2 separate regions of the Homo sapiens genome follow, and region 1 is linked to region 2. Evidence: fine-mapped expression QTL. A gene starts in region 2. The other region holds a variant in brackets. All regions are shown on one strand. Distances are from middle to middle.

Evidence for each region. PIP is the estimated chance that this variant, and not a neighbour inherited with it, causes the effect.
Region 1: its variant is fine-mapped to the expression of C2CD2L in sun-exposed skin (GTEx, PIP 0.94).

The regions. Positions count from the first base shown.
Region 1 is chr11:119,233,291-119,241,290 of GRCh38, forward strand. All of the region lies in intron 2 of CBL (Cbl proto-oncogene), which reads left to right. Among named protein-coding and RNA genes, the nearest start is that of CBL, 31 kb to the left of the region's middle. The variant G/A (reference allele first, on the strand shown) is at 3,969.
Region 2 is chr11:119,102,479-119,116,240 of GRCh38, forward strand. C2CD2L (C2CD2 like) reads left to right here and starts at 4,866. Exons shown (of 14, transcript NM_001290474.2): 1 at 4,866-5,617; 2 at 7,626-7,721; 3 at 8,083-8,202; 4 at 8,369-8,479; 5 at 8,574-8,690; 6 at 8,785-8,896; 7 at 9,043-9,151; 8 at 9,850-9,914; 9 at 10,004-10,131; 10 at 10,222-10,396; 11 at 11,133-11,234; 12 at 11,377-11,510; 13 at 11,602-11,887; 14 at 13,567-13,762. The coding sequence starts at 5,264. RefSeq lists enhancers at 1-227, 1-643 and silencers at 4,701-5,150, 5,221-5,500.

The sequences.
Region 1 (8,000 bases), 130 kb after region 2:
CCCAGGCTGGAGTGCAGTGGTGCGATCTCAGCCTCCAGGTTCAAGTGATTCTCCTGTCTCAGCCTCCTGACTAGCTGGGATTATAGATGTGCACCACCATGCCTGATTAATTTTTGTGTTTTTAGTAGAGATGGGGTTTCACCATCTTGGCCAGGCTGGTCTCGAACTCCTGACTTCAGGTGATCTGCCCGCTTTGGCCTCACAAGGTGCTGGGATTACAGATGTGAGCCATCACGCCTGGCCCTCTTTTGTGTTAATTAAATACCAGAAACTATAGGCTATCCTGCATATTGTTAGCTTAGCTGTCGTAAATTACATACTGGGAGAGAAATAAGTTAACTGTATGTGTGGATGTAATTGTGTTTTATTTTGTTCAATTTGAACTAAATATTAACTCATCTAGAATGAGTAATAAAATAATTCCACTAGAATTTTTTAGTGAGTAAATTATTCTTGAGTAGTGACTTGAATTAGAAGGAACAGTATTTCTGAAGTCATCTGGTTACCATGCATGACTCTAGCAGTAACATACTAAATGGTGTCCTTGTTGTCTACCTTTCCTTTGGGCCTGTTGGCCTAGATTCTGGCAACCCTAGCTTTCAATTAAAATTTTATGCACATGATTATCCATATTACCGTTATTGCAACAAATTACTCAGGTGTAGTCTGAGTAATGGACTCAAAATGTCCATCTTTTCTTTCTTTCTTTCTTTTGTTTTGTTTTGTTTTGTTTGAGACGGAGTCTTGCTGTTGTCACCCAGGCTGGAGTGCAGTGGTGTGATCTTGGCTCACCGCAACCTCCGCCTCTTGGGTTCAAGTGATTCTTCTGTCTCAGCCTCCTTAGTAGCTGGGATTACAAGCATGCACCGCTGTGCCCGGCTAATTTTTGTATTTTTAGTAGAGATGGTGTTTTGCCATGTTGGCAAGCTGGTGTTGAACTCCTGACCTCAGGGGATCCGCCTGCCTCAGCCTCCCAAAGTGTTGGGATTACAGTTGAGAGCCACTTCAGCTGGCCTGTCCATCTTTTCTTAAAAAGATTCTGAGTGAATTCAATCCGTAAGAGCCTTTGTAACTTCTCGTTTATTTGGAAGTGAACTTTATTCCTTTTAAATATTCAGATTTTGTAACTTTTGTTAAAACCTCGACTGTATGGACCTTTTAGCTAACTAGTCATTTTGTATTGTATTGCTGAGTTTCTAAAAAATAATTTTAATTCATGAGGTACCAAAACTTAAAAATTTTGTTTACCATGTACGTGAACTAGGTTCTGGTTCTAGGAGGTGAAAAGGAAAGTTAAGCATTCAAATTTGAGGTAATATGACAAATGCATTAATAGAGATATGTACAAAATTCTGTTGGGAGCCGGGCACAGTGACATGCACCTGTAATTCTAGCTACTCAGAAGACTGAGGTGGGAGGATTATTTCAGCACAAGAAATTGAGACCAGCCTGGGCAACACAGCGAGAACTCTTCTTAAAATAAATGAAACATTTAAAAAGTGCTGTGCGAATACAGTTTTGTCCAGTGGCATTAGAGAAGGTGGCATAGAGGACTTGTAATTTGAATTAGAGTTTGAAGGATAAATAGGAATTTTCTAGGCAGAGAAGTCAAGAAAAGTCTTTTAACACAGTGGCATGAAAATGGAGGCTCTGGTATGTTTAAAATGAGAAGTTTGGTTTGGTTAGAATTGTGGGAGACAGATACGCTGGAAAGACGGGTTGAAGTCAGATTGTAAAGGGCTGTTTTTTGACCTCTAGACTTTCTCTTATAGATGATAGGCTGTCATAGAACAGGTTTATTTTAAAGAGCATTTCTTTTTTCTATTTTTTTTCTTTTTTTTGAGATGGAGTCTCACTCTGTTGCCCAGGTTGGAGTGCAAAGGAGTGATATTGGCTCACTGCAAACTCTGCCTCCCGCATTCAAACAATTCTCTTGCCTCAGCCTCCCGAGTAGCTGGGATTACAGGTGTGTGCATCATGCTGGGCTGATTTTTTTGTATTTTTAGTAGTGACAGGGTTTCACCATATTGGCTTGGCTGGTCTCAAACTCCTGGCCTCAAGTGATCCGCCCGCCTTGGCCTCTATTTTATATGTATTCTCACAATAAAGTGTGCTAGAGAAAAGAAAATGTTACTAAAATCATAAGGAAGATAAAACATTTATTATTCAGTAAGTGGAAATGGATCCTCATAAAGGTCTTCATCCTCATTGTCTTCAGGTTGAATAGGCTGAGGAGGAGGAGTAGGAAGAGGAGGGGTTGGCTGCTGTCTTGGTACTGAAAATTCCAGTACTGGTTTTTCTGTGGTAGAGGCAGAATAGGTGGAGGGGGTGGAAGGGGAGGCAGGAGAGGCAGGCACACTTGGTGTGACTTATAATGAAAAAAAAGTCTGTGTATAAGTGAATCCACACAGTTAAACCCATGTTGTTAAGGCTCAACTATATCTAATTTGCCGTTACCAAATGACTTCAGTACATGTTGACAAGTTCTTTTGCCTCTTTTTAAACCTCACTGTCAGTGTGCCTGTCTGTATCAATTTTATTCCCCCTAACATGAGGCTTTTAATATTTTATGGATTTGATTTGTACAAATTATATGTAAAATGAGAGTAAACAGATTTCAAGTGAGAATCAAGGAGTTCATTTTTTCAATCAACTTTCTCAGGTTGAAAGGGTTTTTGTAAATAGGGAAAAATATATAGGGTTTTTGCGAATGATCTTTGTGGTCTTTTTGATTACTTAGAGGTTTTTTTTTCCTATTCAGTTTTTAAATTGAGATATAATTCACATACCATAAAATTTGCCCTTTTAAAGTGTACAATTTAGTGGTTTTTAGTGTATTCGCAAAGTCAGGCAACCATCACCCCTCTGTAATTCCAGAACATTTTCACCCCCCAACAGGAAACCCCACTCCCATTAGCAGTCACTCTTTGTTCCTCTCTCTGGATCTCCCCTGGCGCTTGGTAATCACTAATACCTGCTTTCTGTCTATGTGGATTTGCCTGCTCTGGACGTTTCGTGTTAAGTGGAATCACATAACGGTGGCCTTTTGTGGTTTTTTTTTGTGTGTCTTCTTTCGCTTAGAATGTTTTTACAATTCACCCATATTGTAGCATGTATTGGTACCTCATTCCTTTTTATGGCTAAGTCATATTTCAATGTATGGATATACCATATTTTGTTTATGATATTTTTGTCATTTCTACTTTTTGGCTACTACTGAATAATGTTGCTATGATTATGTGCCAGTTTTTGTATGGCTATAGCCATATAAACATATATACATATATGTTTTCACTTCTTTTGAGTATATATATATATATATATATATATATACCCATAGGAGTGGAATTGCTGAGTCATATGGTAATTCTGTGTTCAACTTTTGAGTAACCTCCAAACTATTTCCACAGTAGCTGTACCATTTTTCTTTCCCCTAGCAATGTATGTGGGTTCTGATTTTTTGCTAACAATTGCTATTGACTTTTTTTATTACAGCTATTCTACTAGGGGTAAAGTGGTGTCTTGAGGTTTTGAAATGCATGTGAATACTTTTTCATGTGCCTCTTGGATGTTTGTATATAGTTGTCCCCCTTTATCCTCAGTTTAACCTTCCTTGGATTCAGTTACTGGCAGTCAACCATGGTTTGAAAATATTAAATGGAAAATTCTAGAAATAATTCATAAATTTTGAATTGCATGCCCTTCAGAGTAGTGTGATGTAATTTCACAACGTTCTACTTTATCCCAGCTGGGATGCAAAGCATCCCTTTGTACAGCATCTCCATGCTGTATACACTAGCACCTATTAGTCACCTAGTAGCTATCTTAGTTATCAGAGTGAGAAAACATAATATACACAGGGTTCAGTACTATCTGTGGTTTCAGGCATCTGCACATCTTGGAATGCAAAGGGGGACTATTTATCTTCTTTGGAGAAACATCTATTCAAATCCTTTGCCCATTTTAAA[G/A]TTGCATTATTTGTCTTTTCATTGTTGAGTTGTAAGATTTTCCTTCATATTCTGGATGCTAGACCAGATACATGATTTGCAAAACTTTACTCCCATTCTGTGGGTCATCTTTTCACTTTCTTAACAGTATGCCTTGAATCACAAAAGTTTTTAATTATGGTGAAGACCAATATTTATTTGGTTTTTGTACTTTTAAGAAATTATTGCCTAATTCAAGGTCATGAGGCCTGTTTTTTCCTATTTTATAGTTTTACCTCTTGTATTTAGGTCTTTGATCCATTTTTGAGTTAATTTTTGTATATGGTATGAGGTAGAGGTCCAACTTGATTCTCTTGCATGTGGATATCCCTTTGTCTCAGCACCATCTGTTGAAAAGTCTGTCCTTTTTAATTGCATGGACTTGTTGCCATTTTAGGAAGGAAGTAAGTTGACCATAAGTGTAAGGGTTTATTTCTGGACTCTCAGTTTCATTTCATTAATCTACATATCTATCTTAATGCTAGTACCACACCATCTTGATTACTGTAGCTTTGTACTAAAGCTTTGGAATCAAGAAGTGTGAGTTCCTCAGCTTTGTTTTTCAAGATTGTTTTGGCTGCTATTCTGGATCCATTGTATTTCTTTTTTTTTTGAGATGAAGTCTCACTCTGTCACCCAGGCTGGAGTGCAGTGGCGCCATCTTGGCTCACTGCAACCTCTTCTTGCCAGGTTCAAGCGAGTCTCCTGCCTCAGCCTCCTGAGTAGCTGGGATTACAGGTGTGCACCAACAATCCCAGCTAATTTTTGCATTTTCACTAGAGACGGGGTTTCACCATGTTGGTCAGGCTGGTCTTGAACTCCTGACCTCAAGTGATCTGCCCACTGCAGCCTCCCAAAATGCTGGCAGGTGTGAGCCACTGTGCCCAGCCTCCCTTGAATTTCTGCATGAATTTAGAATCAGCCTGTCAATTTGATCCCAAATACAATTTTTTTTTTTTTAATAGATAGAGTCTTGCTCCGTCACCCAGGCTGGAGTACAGTGGCATGACCTTGGCTCTGCCTCCCGGGTTCAAGCGATTCTCCTGCCTCAGCCTCCTGAGTAGCTGGGATTACAGACATGCACCACAACCCCTGGCTAAGTTTTCTATTTTTAGTAGGGATGGGGCTTTACCATGTTGGCCAGGCTGGTCTCGAACTCCTGGCCTCATGTGACCCGCCCGCCTCGGCCTCCCAAAGTGCCGGGATTGCAGGAGTGAGCCACTGTGCCCGACCCCTAAATACAATGTTTTCTTATCAAAAAGAGCAGCAGGGGCTGGGTGTGGTGGTTCACACCTGTAATGCCAGCACTTTGGGAGGCCAAGGTAGGTGGATCACCTGAGATCAGGAGTTTGAGACCAGCCTGGCCGGTGTGGTGAAATCCCGTCTCTACTAAAAATACAAAAAATTAGCCAGGTGTGCTGGCGAGTACCTCTAATTTCAGCTACTCTGGAGGCTGAGGCAGGAGAATCTCTTGAACCCAGGAGGCGGAGGATGCAGTGAGCCGAGATCAAGCCACTGCACTCCAGGCTGGGCAACGGAGCGAGAGTTCATCTCAAGTAAACAAGAGCAGCAGGAATTTTGGTAGATATTGTATTAGATCTGCCGATCATTTTGGGGATTACTGCCATCTTAACAATACTGTTTTCCGCTACATGAATACTGGATATATTTCCACTTATATTTTTATTCATTTTTGTCTTTGTTGTTTTAGACAGAGTCTCACTCTGTTGTTGCCCAGGCTGGAGTACAGTGACTCAATCTCAGCTCACTGCAACCTTCACCTCCCAAGCTCAGGTGATCCTCCCACCTCAGTCTCCCTAGTAGCTGGGACCACAGGTGCGCACCATCATGCCTGGCTAATTTTTGTATTTTTTTGTAGACACGAGGTTTCGTCGTGTTGCCCATGCCGGTCTCAAACTCCTGGGCTCAAGCAATCTGCCCATCTCCACCTCACAAAGTGCTGGGATTATAGGCATGAGCCACCTTGCCTGGCCTTACTTATATCTTCTTTAATGTATTTCAGTAATGTTTTGTAGTTTTCAGTGTTCAAGTTTTTTGCCTTCTTAGTTAAGTTTATTCCTATTTTGTTCATTTTGATGCTATTGTAAATGGAATTGTTAATTTTAGGTTCATATATAGAAACATAGTTGACTTCTGTATGTTGATCTGGTACTCCACAACTTTGCAGAACTTACTTATTGGCTCTAGTAGCTTTTTAGTAGGTTCCTTAGGCTTTCCTAGATACCAGATCATGTCACATGCAATTAGAGGTAGTTTTACTTCTTCCTTTTCTTTCTGCATGCATTTTATCTCTTTTTCTTGCCTAATTATTCTTGGCTATGTTGAATAGGAATATCAGGAGTGGCCATCTTTGTCTTTTTGGTATTGAGGAGGAAAATGTTCAGCCTTTCACCATTGAGTATATTAGCTGTGAGATTTTTGTAAAGGCTTTTCATCAGGTTAAAGAAGTTTCCTTACATGTCTTGTTTTTCAGTTTTTGGTTGTTGTTTTTTTTTTGCTTTTTTGTTTTATCATAAACAGTTGTTAGAGACCTTTTATGTTTCATTCGTGGTTTTTCTTTTTTTGATAGGTGAGTTGTGGACAGCTGAGTGCTAGTTAAATATAGTACATAGAAAGAATCTTGAAAAGAAAACTAGTTTGAATAAGCCAAAGTAGAAACTTGTTGACTCATAAAATTCTAGAAAAAATGAGTATCTTAAATTGCACTAAAGAGGCTGGGCATGGTGGCTCACGCCTGTAATGCCAGCACTTTGGGAGGCTGAGGTGGGCAGATCACTTGAGGTCAGGAGTTGGAGACCAGCCTGGCCAACATAGTGAAACCCCATATCTACTAAAAAATTCAAAACAATTAGCTGGACATGGTGGCATATACCTGTAATCCCAGCTGCTTGGGAGGCTAAGGCACGAGAATTGCTTGAACTCGGTTGGTGGAGGTTTGCGGTGAGCTGAGATCATGCCCCTGCACTCCAGCCTGGGTGACAGGGTGAGACTGTTACCAATTAAAAAAAAAAAGAAAAAAAAGAAAGAAAAAGAAAAATTGCACTAAAGGCAAGAATGCAGGTAAGCCTCAGGAACAACTGAAACCAGGATTGAAATGTTGCCAGGACTCTGTCTGTTCTCTTTGATTCTTCTGGTATTACTTCCATACTCAGTGCAGATTAATGCGTAAATTGCAGAAAAGTTTGGTCTCTATTACACCCAAGTTTTATATCTTAAGAGTTTCTGCTGTAGCAGAAGATATGACTCTTAGTTCCAGTTTTCACTTTGGCTTGGTATAGAGCATTTGATTGTCCCTGGACCAACCTCTGGAAGGAGAGGTTAAGTACTGGGATTAGTACAGCAGAGGCCAGTTGCAGACCTCTAGACTAATCGACTGTGGCTTGGGAGACATATGTGTTCCTTCATAGCCATGTGCATGGGGGAGTTTGTTCCTAGTTTTTTGGGTGTTGAGGAGCCAGTCTCTTAAATCTTCTCTATAAGAGTGTACATAATTGGCTGGGTGCAGTGGCTCATGCCTGTAATGCCAGCACTTGGGGAGGCTGAGGTGGGTGGATCACCTGAGGTCAGGAGTTCAAGACCAGCCTGGCTAACATCGTGAAACCCCGTCTCTACTAAAAATACAAAAATTAGCCAGGTGTGGTAGCGGGCACCTGTAATCCCAGCTACTCGGGAGGCTGAGGCAGGAGAATCACTTGAACCTGGGAGGTGGAGGTTGCAGAGCCGAGATTGTGCCACTGCACTCTAGCCTGGGCGACAGAGTTAGATTCCATCTCAAAAATAAAAAATAAAAAATAAAAAAGAATGTACATAATTCTATCTATTATTGTATAGTATTGTTGCTTCATGATTTTATTTTAGTTATTATTAGCTGGTTTAAGTTCTCCAAAGATAAATTTGCCCTCATTTTTCTTAGACTTTATAAAAAATGAATTAAGTAAAACCATAAGCCTCTGTTTTGCCTTTGATCTTTCTGGGTTTTGCACCTGTTTTCAT
Region 2 (13,762 bases):
TCCTCGATTCTGGTATTTTTTTCTCAGCATCCCACCCACCTTCTGCCCCAGCTGTAGCAGTTAGTTGCCCGGCAACCCAGCGCAGCACTTCACTGAGGGATTGGGAGTACCCTCAGGTCTTGGATTTAACTCGAGACTTCAGCTTGGCCGTGGATCACTGCATTGTACCTAGCTCCCACAAGGAGGAGATGGAGATTTCCAGGCTGAGGCTCTGGAAAGAGCTGAGGAGGGAGAGGAATCAGACCCACAACTGATTTCCTGTGAGTCTGAGGAACTCCCAGTCAGGTTTCTTCCTGTAGGTCACTGTGCATTTTGCTTGGCCTCCTGCAGGTTGCTGTGCATTTTGCTTGGCCTGTTCCCCTGCAAACAACAATTCACCAGCTTTTTTTTTTTTTTTTTTTTTTTTTTTTTGAGACAGAGTTTCGCTCTTGTTGCCCAGGCTGGAGTGCAATGGCGCGATCTCGGCTCACCGAAACCTCCACCTCCCAGGTTCAAGAGATTCTCCTGCCTCAGCCTCCCGAGTAGCTGGGATTACAGGCAGTAGCTGGAATTACAGGCATGCGCCACCACGCCCGGCTAATTTTGTATTTTTAGTAGAGACGGGATTTCCCTATGTTGGTCAGGCTGGTTTGGGACTCCCGACCTCAGGTGATCTGCCCGCCTTGGCCTCCCAAAATGCTGGGAGTACAGGCGTGAGCCACCACGCCCAGCCAGTTCACCAGCATCTTTATTACCTTTCATTCCCCGACAGGCTCTTAGGCGGCAAATGATTTCCATTTGTCAGAGAGGAAGTCACCACCAGTGAGTTAGGGAAAGGACTCCAATAGCCTAGCGCTTTGTCCACTCTTCCCTCTATGGCATGTTCCAGGAGTCAGGGTCATGTTGACCGTTTTTAAGCCGAAGATAGTTTCTTCTTTCCCTCAAAATCAGATGTGAGGCCGGGCGCAGTGGCTAACGTCTGTAATCCCAGCACTTTGGTAGGCGAAGGTGGGTGGCTCACTTGAGGTCAGGAGTTCGAGACCAGCCTGGCCAACACGGTGAAACCCCGTCTCTACTGAAAATACAAAAATTAGCCGGGTGTGGTGGCACATGCCTGTAATCTCAGCTACTCAGGAGGCTGAGGCAGGAGGATCGCTTGAACCTGGGATGAGGAGGTTGCAGTGAGCCGCGATCATGCCACTGCATCCCAGCCTGGGCAACAGAGGGGAAACTGTCTCAAAACAAACAAACAAACAAACTAAATCAGATGTGAAATGGCTTTTCTACTTGAAAATGGCTCTAATTAACAACAACAAAAACCCAGATATGTATAAAATACATAAATTTTCGTAATTTACTTGCTAGTATTCCACCAGATTTTCAGTACTTATCCCACTGCTATTATTTTTCTGTGTGTGTTGTGTGTATGCACGTGTGCCCCTTTTAAACTAGAAACTCCCGGGAGGCAAGTGTTTTCTCTTCCACAGGGTGTCCCCATGGGGCTAGGAACACAGACATCTGTGTACAAGGAAGGCATCATCACACATAATGAGGCTGAGGCTGAAAGGAGGACTGAGGGCAATAGGTGCATATGGAGGGAGCAATTAGTTGTGACCAGAGTAAGTGGTCTTGAGGAAGAGAAGTATCATTTCAGTAGATTATAAGAGTAGAAGGACCTTTCACAGGCAGCGACAGTGAGACACCAGAAGCTGGTGGAAAGGAGGAGCTTGTGGGATCCCAGAGGAGGCAGCATTCAGTTATCTTGTTGATGACGAGTATACTGAGACTCCCTGGAGGTCTGAGAGCCAGTCTGTATCTATTTCCTTTTTTATTAGGAGGCCAATCCTAATAAATCTTCCTTCCCAGCCTGGTATTGGGAAGCTTTATCTCTTTCTTCTCCAGAGATCATTAGCCCTCCCTACCACCACCCTCCTGGGGAGGGTGGAAGGATGTAATCAAAGACAAGAGAGACTAAGGATTCATCATCCACATATACATGTTACTATCAGAAAATGGTTACTAAGATACTTGTCAGATAATCTGAGTATTTTTGTTCCCATGATGATAAAGTCCCAGTTGATGATCAGACTAATCAGAAGGAGAAACAAACACATGACTTTTGGCTTCACTTGAAATTGTGTGCCTTCCCTGGTAAAAGTTCAAAGCGTTTTCCTGAATGCTGAAGCCGGCCCTAGGATTCACAGACCAGTTGACTTGTCAGTGGCCCTGGACTGAGCAGACAGTGTTTGAGATGCACACCTCTTCTAAGTAGCCTTGAGTGGCTCCCAATGAGCAAGGCCAATCCACTGAATGTGATTGCTAGACAAAGCCTGTCCCAAAAATGTTTCATAGTGCCACAAAGACAATGAGACCCCTCTGGATAGTCTGGGGCTGTGATACTTGCAGGACTCTATCTGTGGCTCTGTCCAGTCAGCTGAATCACTCTTTTTCCTTTTCCTCCCACCTCTCCCCTCTTAGTCTAGAAAAAAGTTGTTAATTAAAAGCAAGCCCCAGGATTTCCCATTCCACTGGTATGGCATGAATGATATTTCAAAAGACAGAAATGGCATAGAAATTCTCAAAGCATACTTGAGTATTTTCTGTTAGACTTCTTAAAATTACAAAGTTTGTTAATCCCTACTATGTGCATAGGAAGCTCTTCAGTACTGTGGAGGATACAAACTAATATAATTGCAGTTGCTTGCCCCCAGGGAGTCTACTTCAGCATATTTGGAGCATCTTGGTTGAATTTGAGGGAAAAGAGATGACTAAGACATGGTTCCCACCCCTAGGCAGCTTCCTGATGCATGGAAAAAGCAGACATATAAACAATCAGCTAGACTCTAAGGCAGAATGTAAGTGCTAGAGGTCTAAGTAATGGAAGAAAGAAGGAGGACTAGGCTGGGCACAGTGGCTCTCACCTGTAATCCCAGCACTTTGGGAGGCCGAGGCGGGAGGATCACCTGAGGTCAGGAGTTCGAGATCAGCCTGGCCAACATGGTGAAACCCTGTCTCTACTAAAAATAACAAAAATTAGCCAGGCATGATGGCGCATGCCTATAGTCCCAACTACTTGGTAGGCTGAGGCAGGAGAATCACTCAAACCTGGGAGGTGGAGGTTGCAGTGAGCCAAGATCTCGCTACTGCACCCCAGCCTGGGCAACAGTGACTTTCTGTCTCAAGAAAAGAGAAAAAAAAAAAAAAAAAGAGGGAGGACTAACTAGGGAGACTCATGTAACTAGGTAGACTCACAGTTCAGATACTGAATTGTGAAGCAGTATCTGGCAGCATAGGACCAAGCACTCAGTGGAGAAGTTGAGGGAATAAATCAAAGAAGTCAGAGAATGGAGATCACTAGGGGGTCTGAGGGTTCCTGAAGGATTCTTGGGGGAAGAGGGTCTTCATAGGGAAAGCTTCTACCTGGACAACTTCCTGCATAACCTGCTCCCCTAAACCCTAGCTGCTCTTCCCACTGACAGCTTCCTCCTGCATCCCTGGTTCTGGCCCTGAGTTCTCTCCTCCCTTGATTTCATGTCTTCTCCTCCCTTTGAGATTAGAAACCCAGACTCTAGGAATCTCCACTGATTTGGCAGTCCAGTGACAATGCATGGGCAGGGCCACAGGAGGTTACCTCATTCACCCCCACCTCTCCCCATCATTCCTTACAGGGAAATCTAGGGAGGCCCAGGCTACCCCACCACCTCCTCTGGCTCAGACAAACCTGTTGCTGACCTGTCAGTTTCTGTCTAGCCCTGCCATCCCACACTTCAGAAGGCATTGTTTATTCTCTTATTCTCATGTGCTCATTCCTCAGACAACTACTTGGGTTTGGGAGAAAGATACTTAACACCTTTCCATCCTACCTCTTTAAGAAAGGGACTGTGTGCCAAAGACCTTCCCACATGTATGAAGAAGGGGCTCTTGGGAGAATGTGAATTCCCCCAGGATTCCTTTGAATCCTTTTGCAGGTATTTCCTTCCCCTGTCCTCAGCAAGCATTGATGAGCCCCAGTCCTGTAGAGGTTGAATCAACTCCTTGAGTCTAGGAAAAGATGGCTTCTGAGGCCAGAGGTTGGGCAGTGTACCTACAGCACCATTTCTTGGGAGCTTGTTGGGATATCACATACTTAGAGTGGCAAGGTCTTGTGGCTGAATCTATTGATAGTCCAGTGCTACATTGCCAGCTCCCTTGTCATTACCACCCCCTCTACACGTGCTCCATAGGCAGGAGCTGTTACTATGGAAATACATTATTTTTAAAAACAGACACACAGCCTGGGCTTGGGAATCTCCAGAACAAACCTACACGAGCAAGGAGGTTAATGGGGCTGTTTCTGGGTCCAAGCTCCAAGAGGAAGGAGGGTGATGATGGTGGGGGGAATTCAAATTCGGTGTTCTACTCTCAACCTCTCCCAGCTTCAGGTTCTGCTTTCTCTCTGTTGACATCAGCTGGACCTCTGCCAGACACTTCTATCTGGGAGGGACGCTCTGCGTCTCCTTACCCTGGGCCTAGCTTCCCCCAGGAAATGGGAAGCTAGAAGTCGCTGAGTCTGGGGGTGTTGGGAGAAGGGGGCGGTGATTTCCACAGGGGTCACCTCCTTCTTAACCTCACAGGCGTCCGACCTGTGGAAATCTAACAAGCATAGGGGAAAGCAAAGGCAGCATCTTAGGTAAGTGAAGTTACTCTTGCCTTGAGCTGAGTGTGGGAGCACCGCGATTGCAAGATGGGGCGAGGTGATCAAAGATCCCGCCTATTTTCAACCCCGGAACCTCCTCCGCTCGCTGCTAGCCCTCCCGCCCTCCTCCAGCGAGGGAGCGCCAGGCTGTCCTGGCCCCGCCCGGCGCGGGTGCGGCTCCTTTAAGGGCGGGTGGGGGCGGGGCGCCGGCGGTGTTGTCAGTGTCAGCTCTGCGCACGCAGCCCTCCCGGAGCCGGTGCCGGCCCGCGAGCCCCAGCGTCTCTGCAGACCAGTCCCCTCCAGGGTCCGGCGGGGCCCGCGCGGTGGGAGGAGTCGGGCACTGGCCGGCGACTAACGGGTCCGACTGCTGACCAAGCTAGGAGAGACCCGGACCACGGAGACAGAGACCCCGGCATCGCGACCCCCGAGGACCTCCTCTCCTCGCCCTGTGGCACCCACTAGTCCTGGGCACTCAGCCGCGGAGAGCCCCCGACCCCGCGCGCCCAGCCCCGGGGGAGCCCACCTCCTCCCCGCGGCCCGCCCGGGCCATGCTCCCCCGGGGCAGCGGGTGAGCCCCAGCCGGGACCGGGATCGGAGCCCGCGCGGAGCATGGATCCGGGCTGGGGGCAGCGGGACGTGGGCTGGGCGGCCTTGCTGATCCTCTTCGCCGCCTCGCTGCTCACGGTGTTCGCCTGGCTGCTGCAATATGCCCGGGGCTTGTGGCTGGCGCGGGCCCGCGGGGACCGGGGCCCGGGACCCGCCTTAGCCGGGGAACCCGCGGGTTCCCTGCGGGAGCTGGGCGTGTGGCGCTCGCTGCTGCGGCTGCGGGCGACTCGGGCTGGCGCCGCCGAGGAGCCAGGAGTCCGGGGCCTCCTGGCGTCACTCTTCGCCTTCAAGTCTTTCCGGGAGAACTGGCAGCGGGCTTGGGTGCGAGCGCTGAACGAGCAGGCCTGCAGAAACGGGGTGAGTTGGACCAAGCGCTTGGGTGGTCCCTTCAGCCTTTCCTTCCAGGGGAGGGACTGACTGCTCGTGCTAGGAGGCCAGACGAGGGTGGGCATAAACTGGGGAACCCTATGGCTTCTCTTCCCCTCCCGGATCAGAGAAAAGGGTGCCGCTAAGGCTGGAGGTTGTAGAAATCCAACTGGGTCCCCAGACTTCCATTTCTGTGGGCAAGGTACTCTGGTTCCAAACCCATGCACAAGTTGCTGTTCTCATAGCAACGCTAATCCCTGTGCCTGAGGGCACTTCCGCCTTGCCTGGGTGCTGGTTGTGTTGGGGCATGGGAGACAGGTGCACCTGCAGAAGGAATTTGCCTGCTTCTCATGCCACCACACCCATTTAACATTTCATGCCCCAAATCCCTGGTGTGGTCAGGCAGATCCCCAAGGAGCCTGAATCACCCCCCTACCCGACAGTAATTTCACTGCTACAGTCAAACACATCCTTCTCCTCCATGCTGGCCTGTGGTTCACTGGGGGTTGGGGAGTGTTCAGGTGGAGAGCAGATTGACAGTGCCCCTACCAGTAGATGAGCTTGGAACTGCCCCTTGAGGGTCAGTCACAAACCAGTCCAGCCTACTTCCTCCCATTGCACCATGGGCATCTGGCCTCCCAGGAAGTGGGGCAGGAAGCGTGGTCATGAGATGGAGATAAGGTGGGAGGTAGAAGTCTCTCTTTTCTGGAGCTCCCTCCCATCCTGACCCAGCAATCTCTCCTTGCTCTCACAGTCCATCAGCTCCTTGCTCAGAGGGTTCTCTATTTCCAGCCACTATGAGTTTGGAGGCTTTACCTTACTAGTTCCCCAGATGCCGGAAACAGAAATGTCCACAAGAAATTGCTCTATTTACTCTGTCCAGCTGGCTGGCTAAAAGCCAGATGGCATCTGTCAGTTTACACCTTGAACCCACCTCTTCATCCAACTCTCCCTGTACCTTGTCCCTCGGTCAGAAGCAACTCCCCAGGATAGCTGACTCAACTGGACATTGGCCTCCCTTGCAGAGGGTGGGGAGATTGAGGTTTCAAGCATCCATCTCCCCATCTTCCTTGGCCTAGCCTTTGAATGAGACAGCTACCAGAGCAAAGGAGTTGGCTTCCCCTGGTTTGCCAAGCAAATGAACCCTATGGATTTGTTTCCTCCATCTCAAGACCCAAGGAAGAGTTGCCAGCCAATTCTGTGCCCCTTCCTCAATTCTGTGTCCGCACTGCTCTCCAGGTGGGGCTGCGGTAGGTTGCTTCCATTACTGTGGACGAATTAGGGAGCAGCTCTTTTGAGATCTAAGCAGCTTTCTGCTCTCTAATACCGTCCTGCTATCTGCCTTGAGGAATTAGCCAGGCCCCTGGACTCTTGGGTCCTCTGAGCTTGTATCTCTTCCCAGTCCCCCTGGTACGGATCCCCAAGGCCATGCTCATCTTCATCTCCAAGAATATGAAGCATCATACTCTTGAAGCCTCCACATCTTATTTATTTGGAAGAAGGCTTAGCTTCATTTCTGCAGCTCTTATCTTGAACAAGGTGGCTCTACCACCTTTACCGGGGCTTAGCCCTTTCCCTCTGCCCAGCTATTATATATAGGTGGCAACCAGCACCTTAACTTTTTTCTATGTAGGATTTTTTGTTTGTTTGTTATTTGTTTTTTTAGGGGGTAGGGTAGGGGATGAAAGGGATTGCAGGGAGAAGAAGAAGGAAGCTCTTGGTATTCCAGGAGGAAGCCAGGGTCTTCAGCTTAAGGTGATCTAGTCTCTGAGGTGGACTACCTCCCCATTGCTCAGTGGCTCCTAGCAGCTACAGGCCCCTGGAGAGGCAGGCCTTGAGGGGACTACCTCCTGTCTTAAAGCCCTGAGCCAAGGAGGGGCCAGAAGCCAGCCTGCAGCTGAGGCCTCCGCAGTGGCAGAGTCCAGCCAGCAACTGAGCAGGCCAACCCTGTGGGGGGCAGCTCCAGAGACCTGATCCAATGCCCACATTACTCCCTCAGAGCTCCATCCAAATCGCCTTTGAGGAGGTGCCCCAACTCCCACCCAGAGCCAGCATCAGTCATGTGACCTGCGTAGACCAATCTGAGCATACCATGGTAAGGGTCTGATGGGCACTGCCCTCTTTGGGGTCCAAGAAGGACTGACCCCAAGGGCTCCCTTTAGTCCAGAGGTTCTTAACCTGGAGTCTGTGAATGCCTTATGGATCTAAGGATTGGTTTCAGGAAGTCTGAGAATCCCATTGAAGTTATGTGCAAAATGTTGGATGTGTGTTTATATGCATTTTTCTGGGGAGAGGAGTCTTTGGCATTTATCTGATTCTTTTAGGGATTTATGATCCTGAAAACATGAAGTCCTTAGGAAAACGGAAGTGGGGAGGGGTCTGCTGAACTATTACAGGGCAGTTCAAAGCAGGGTGAGCACCCTTCCCCCACATCTGACCCACCTCGCCGGTCTCAGGTGCTGCGTTGCCAGCTCTCTGCTGAGGAGGTGCGGTTCCCAGTCTCTGTGACCCAGCAGTCCCCCGCTGCCGTCTCCATGGAGACCTACCACGTCACTCTGACACTGCCACCAACACAGGTAGAAGGGGATGTGGGAAACTGAGTTGGGCAGGGGCGGTTCCATTGGCTCAGCTTCTTCCATTTGTTTCCTCTCTGGGATGGAATTCAGGAAGGGAGAGTCCTCGAATTAGGAGTCCTTGGGTAAATGGGGCAAGTCAGCCCAGTCACTTTGTTCCTGTCTGTAGTTGGAAGTCAACCTGGAGGAAATCCCTGGTGAGGGGCTGCTCATATCCTGGGCCTTCACTGATCGCCCAGATCTCAGCCTAACGGTGCTTCCCAAGCTTCAGGCCAGGGAGGTAAGGAGGCAGAGCTGGCAGAGAAGAGGCAGAACGGGGAGGGAGGCAGAGGTGGGGGATCCACCTCCTTGTTGTTCCCTTCTTCTCTCTGCAGAGAGGTGAAGAACAAGTGGAGCTCTCCACAATTGAGGAACTGATCAAGGATGCCATAGTCAGCACCCAGCCAGCCATGATGGTCAACCTCAGGGCTTGCTCTGCCCCAGGAGGCCTGGTGAGTTGGCACCCAAAGCAAAAGATTTGCATGCACCTTGTTCCTAGGGTGCTATGTCAGGATTCTTGCTCTTTGGACCTTCTTCTGCTCTTAGGTACCCAGTGAGAAGCCACCCATGATGCCCCAGGCTCAGCCAGCCATCCCCAGACCTAACCGGTTATTCCTACGGCAGCTTCGGGCATCTCACTTGGGAAATGAGCTGGAAGGTGAGAGCTGGAAGTGGCTGCGGGACTGCCAAGGCTATGGTTGGTTGCAGATGCTCTCTGCCCCTCTGCCAAGGGTACAGCCTCTTTATTCTGCAGTGACTTCCCATCTCTGATCTGAGCATCTTCTAACTTCTGGTTCATCACAGGCACCGAGGAACTGTGCTGTGTAGCTGAACTCGACAACCCCATGCAGCAGAAGTGGACCAAGCCCGCGAGGGCTGGATCCGAGGTGGAGTGGACAGAAGACCTGGCACTGTAAGGAGTAACCCTGCCCCGACCCCATGCTCCAGAGCAGAGAGGATCAAACCTTTCCAGCACAGTCCTTGCAGGAATCAGCTCTGTTTTCAGTAGCCTTTGGCGTGAGCTCCTATTGTATGCCAGGCCCTGGCGTGGGTCTTAGGGATACAGACTTGACCAAGATACAGCCCCCACCCCTGGGTCAATGACAAGCTTGAGGCAGAGACAGGTGTACATAAAGAAGATGGTAAAACCGCTCCAGTTGAGGTTTATGTAATGTGCCGTCAGAGTGCCTAGGTGGGGGGGAGATTAATTCCCATGAGGGAATAAGGATCAGAGTAGGCTTCATGGAGGAGATGACATTTAAACCACACTTTAGAGCAAGAGTAGGATTTCATCAGAGTGTGAAAGTATTCTCGGCAGAGGGAAGAGCTGGAGCAAATGAAAGAGGGTGGCTTGCAACTGAGAGACTGGCAAGACAGGAAGAGCAGGACCAGGGAGGATTTGAATGCATAGCTGAGAAGCATGGTTTCCACTCAGGCCCTGTCCCTTTCTCTTGGGACGAGAGAGAATTTGGAGGCCAGGAGAATCTGATTGGAGCATTTATGCCGTTTTATTTATGTACACAGCTCTCTGCCTCTGGCCTGTGATCCACTCAAGTGTGGGTTCAGCTTGCTAATTTTCTCCTTCCTGCCCCATCTCCTCTTGTCCCACAGGGATCTGGGCCCCCAGAGCCGGGAGCTGACCCTCAAAGTGCTGAGGAGCAGCAGCTGTGGAGACAGTAAGTGAGGGGTGGGAGGGGCACCCCTGGGTGGGTACAGAGTGGGGTCTGGCCATGGGCCCAGCTCACAGTGCCATCCCTTTCCCCAGCCGAACTCCTAGGCCAGGCCACACTGCCTGTGGGCTCCCCCTCCAGACCACTGTCTCGAAGACAGTTGTGCCCACTCACCCCAGGGCCAGGGAAAGCCCTGGGACCAGCAGCCACCATGGCAGTGGAGGTGAGAAGCTGACCCCTGGGGTAGGTGGGAGGACACAGGGGATGGGCAGTCTCCGAGGCTCTGTCTCTTCTCTCTCCCACCCCTGGGCAGCTTCACTATGAGGAGGGCTCTCCCCGGAACCTGGGTACTCCCACCTCCTCCACTCCACGCCCCAGCATCACACCTACCAAGAAGATTGAGCTTGACCGGACCATCATGCCCGATGGCACCATTGTCACCACAGTCACCACTGTCCAGTCCCGGCCCCGTATAGACGGCAAATTAGGTAAAGAGAAGGAGCCTGGGAGCCCAGCTCTAGCCAGGGGCCCGGGACTGCAGACCCAAGGCAGGACAGTGAAAGAGGAGAGAGCCTTAATTCCAACTCCCCCTGTTTTCAGACATTCCATTCCAGTCCTACCACATCTTCCTCCCAATCTTTGTCTCTTCCAAACTTTCCCTTACCTCCTGCCATTTCCCCAGCAATTCCTCTCACTCTGCCACCCTTCTGGATCCTCCTGCCCCTCCTCATACAGGACTGTTGCACTCCTACCTTCCAGCTTCCCCTCTGGCTTTTCACAGGTGTCCTTAGCCCCAGCTGACTATAATTGTCCATCCTGCTACCCTCAGCCCTCCAGCACCCCCTGGGGTCCTCCAACAAACCCAGAGGCCTCTGTGGCATTTCTACCCCACTCAGTGGGCCCCCATGGCACTTCTGCCATTATAGGGGCCCCACTGAATTGCCCCAACTTCAGGGAGCCCCAGTACCCCCTCTGTCCCCGCTCCATATTTTCATAGCATCTCCCCACACCTTCAGCAGGCCCCATGGCACTTTCCTACACTCCCATTAGCTCCTGGGGTGTCTTTTAGTCCCCACGGCATCTTCCTAATCACCCTTGTGATTAATCACCCTTTAATCATTCTTGCCCTCTGAGTCACCCAAAGTCTGCATCTCAACAAAGACAGTAGGGGTGGGGGCCACTCTGAAGCAACTCCCAGCTCACTGACCCTCCCCCACCCACCAGACTCCCCCTCCCGCTCCCCGTCCAAGGTGGAGGTGACCGAGAAGACGACAACTGTGCTGAGTGAGAGCAGTGGCCCCAGCAATACCTCCCATAGCAGCAGCCGTGAGTGGGGAATGGGGTGCATGAGTGTGGGTTGGCCCTGGTGCCCCAGCATCAAAAAGTACTCTGGGTGGGATAGGAGGAGTTCCAATCCAAGAAAGAGCCAGGGAGAAGTCAGGTTATTCATTCTCTGCACCCCTAGCAGGGGACAGCCACCTTTCCAACGGCTTGGACCCTGTAGCAGAGACAGCGATTCGCCAGCTGACAGAGCCCAGTGGGCGGGTGGCCAAGAAGACACCCACCAAGCGCAGCACTCTCATCATCTCTGGTGTTTCCAAGGTAACAGGGCTCTGGGGAGAGGAGCTGGGATGGGGAGAAAGCCCTAATGGGTCGGTCACTCCTGCCCATTAAAACCCGTCCCTCCTGCCAGGTGCCCATTGCTCAGGACGAGTTGGCGCTATCCCTGGGCTATGCGGCATCCCTGGAAGCCTCAGTGCAGGATGATGCAGGGACCAGCGGAGGCCCCTCTTCACCTCCCTCAGACCCACCAGCCATGTCTCCAGGACCGCTAGATGCCCTCTCTAGTCCCACAAGTGTCCAGGAAGCAGACGAGACAACCCGTTCGGATATTTCTGAGAGGCCATCTGTGGATGATATTGAGTCGGAAACGGGGTCCACTGGTGCCCTGGAGACCCGCAGCCTCAAGGATCACAAAGGTAGGGGGACGTTGGCAGGGTGCCCCTCATCTCTTCTTTTATACACATATCATGACCTGGGGGACCTCGAGCCAGTGTGCCTTCTCCTTCCTCCCCTAAGAGATAGCCGGATTCCCAGCCTAGTTCAGCCAAGCTAGCCTAGAGGGGGATCTTGGTGCCTTGGTTCCTGGCCTAGATCTGACATGCTTGTGATAGGAAGGGATGCCAAATTATTTCCCTTTACCTCCATTGTTCTTTCTTCCTGAGTCTAAGTGCCATTTTTCCTGCCCTTTAAAAAAAAATTATAAAAATTTATTCCTAGGCAGGGTGTGGTGGCTCACACCGGCACTTTGGGAGGCCAAGGCGGGTGGCTTACCTGAGTCCAGGAGTTCAAGACTAGCCTGGGCAACATGGCGAGACCCCATCTCTACTAAAAATACAATAAATTGGCTGGGCGTAGTGGCACACACCTGTAATCTCAGCTACTCAGGGGGCTGAGGAGGGAGGATTCCTTGAGCCTGGGAGGTTGAGGTTCAAGGAGGTTGAAGCAGTGAGCCGTGATTGTGCCACTGCACTCCAGCCTGGGTGACAGAGTGAGACCCTGTCTCAAAAAAAATTTTTTTTTTCCATGGCTGGGCACGGTGGTTAATGCCTGTAATCCTAGCACTTTGGGAGGCCAAAGCGGGTGGATCACAAGGTCAGGAGTTCAAGACCAGCCTGGCCAACATGGGTAAACCCCATCTCTACTAAAAATACAAACATTAGCCAGACGTGGTGGCAGGCGCCTATAATCCCAGCTACTTGGGAGGCTGAGGCAGGAGAATCGCTTGAACTGGGGGGTTGGAGGTTGCAGTGAGCCCAGATCATGACACTGCACTCCAGCCTGGGTGACAGAGTGAGACTCTGTCTCAAAAAAAAAAAAAAAAAAAAAAAATTCTTCCCTTTCAATCTGCACCCTCTCCCCAATGAGTATAAGAAATCCTACCCTTGGATTATCCATCTGGCAGCAAGACAGGCAGTGACCAGTGGTGGTAGTTCTTCTAACTTTAAAAGATGAGAGGCTCACCCTAAAACATCTTCATTCCTCTACCAGTGAGACTATCAACCATGGATCTATCTATCTATTTTTTAAGCCTGCATCACTTCTTGAGATAATGAGGTTTCTACCTCCAAAGCCTGCTGGGTGAGCACCTTGCTCATTATACTGGTTCTGAATTTACCTCTTTGAAGTTTCTAGATGCACCACTTCCTGCTCACAGCCTGGAATTCGGTTAACAAGTCAGTGTCAACCTACCTTTCCCTTCATGATTTATAGACTTTTGGGAGTACCTTCTGGTAGCTTTTGTCTTCCCATAGGAAAGAGGCCCAATCCCAGTTTGTCCTCACAAAGCGGCCAGCTCCGTGATATCTCTTTTGCGGGCAGAGTTAAGATTGTACACAGATCCCCACAAGTACCACGATTTTTGCCTCAGGAAGGATAAAGCACATGTTTGTTTCTGCTTTCGTTTTCTTTTTTCTTTTTTTCACGAAGCCTTATGGAGAAGTATGTTTCTGCTTTCTTTCCTGAGGAAGCCTGGCTTCTGGGCCACGGGACTGATCCTGTCCACATCCTCTTTCCCTCCATTCTCCATCGTGTCTCTGCCCCCGTCTCACCCCACCCCGTGCCCCTCTCTGCCTCAGCTTCCCCTCTTCCCCTGCAGTGAGTTTCCTGCGCAGCGGCACTAAGCTCATCTTCCGCCGGAGGCCTAGGCAGAAGGAAGCTGGCCTGAGCCAATCACACGATGACCTCTCCAACGCAACGGCCACGCCCAGTGTCCGAAAGAAGGCCGGCAGCTTTTCTCGCCGCCTTATCAAGCGCTTTTCCTTCAAATCCAAACCCAAGGCCAATGGTAACCC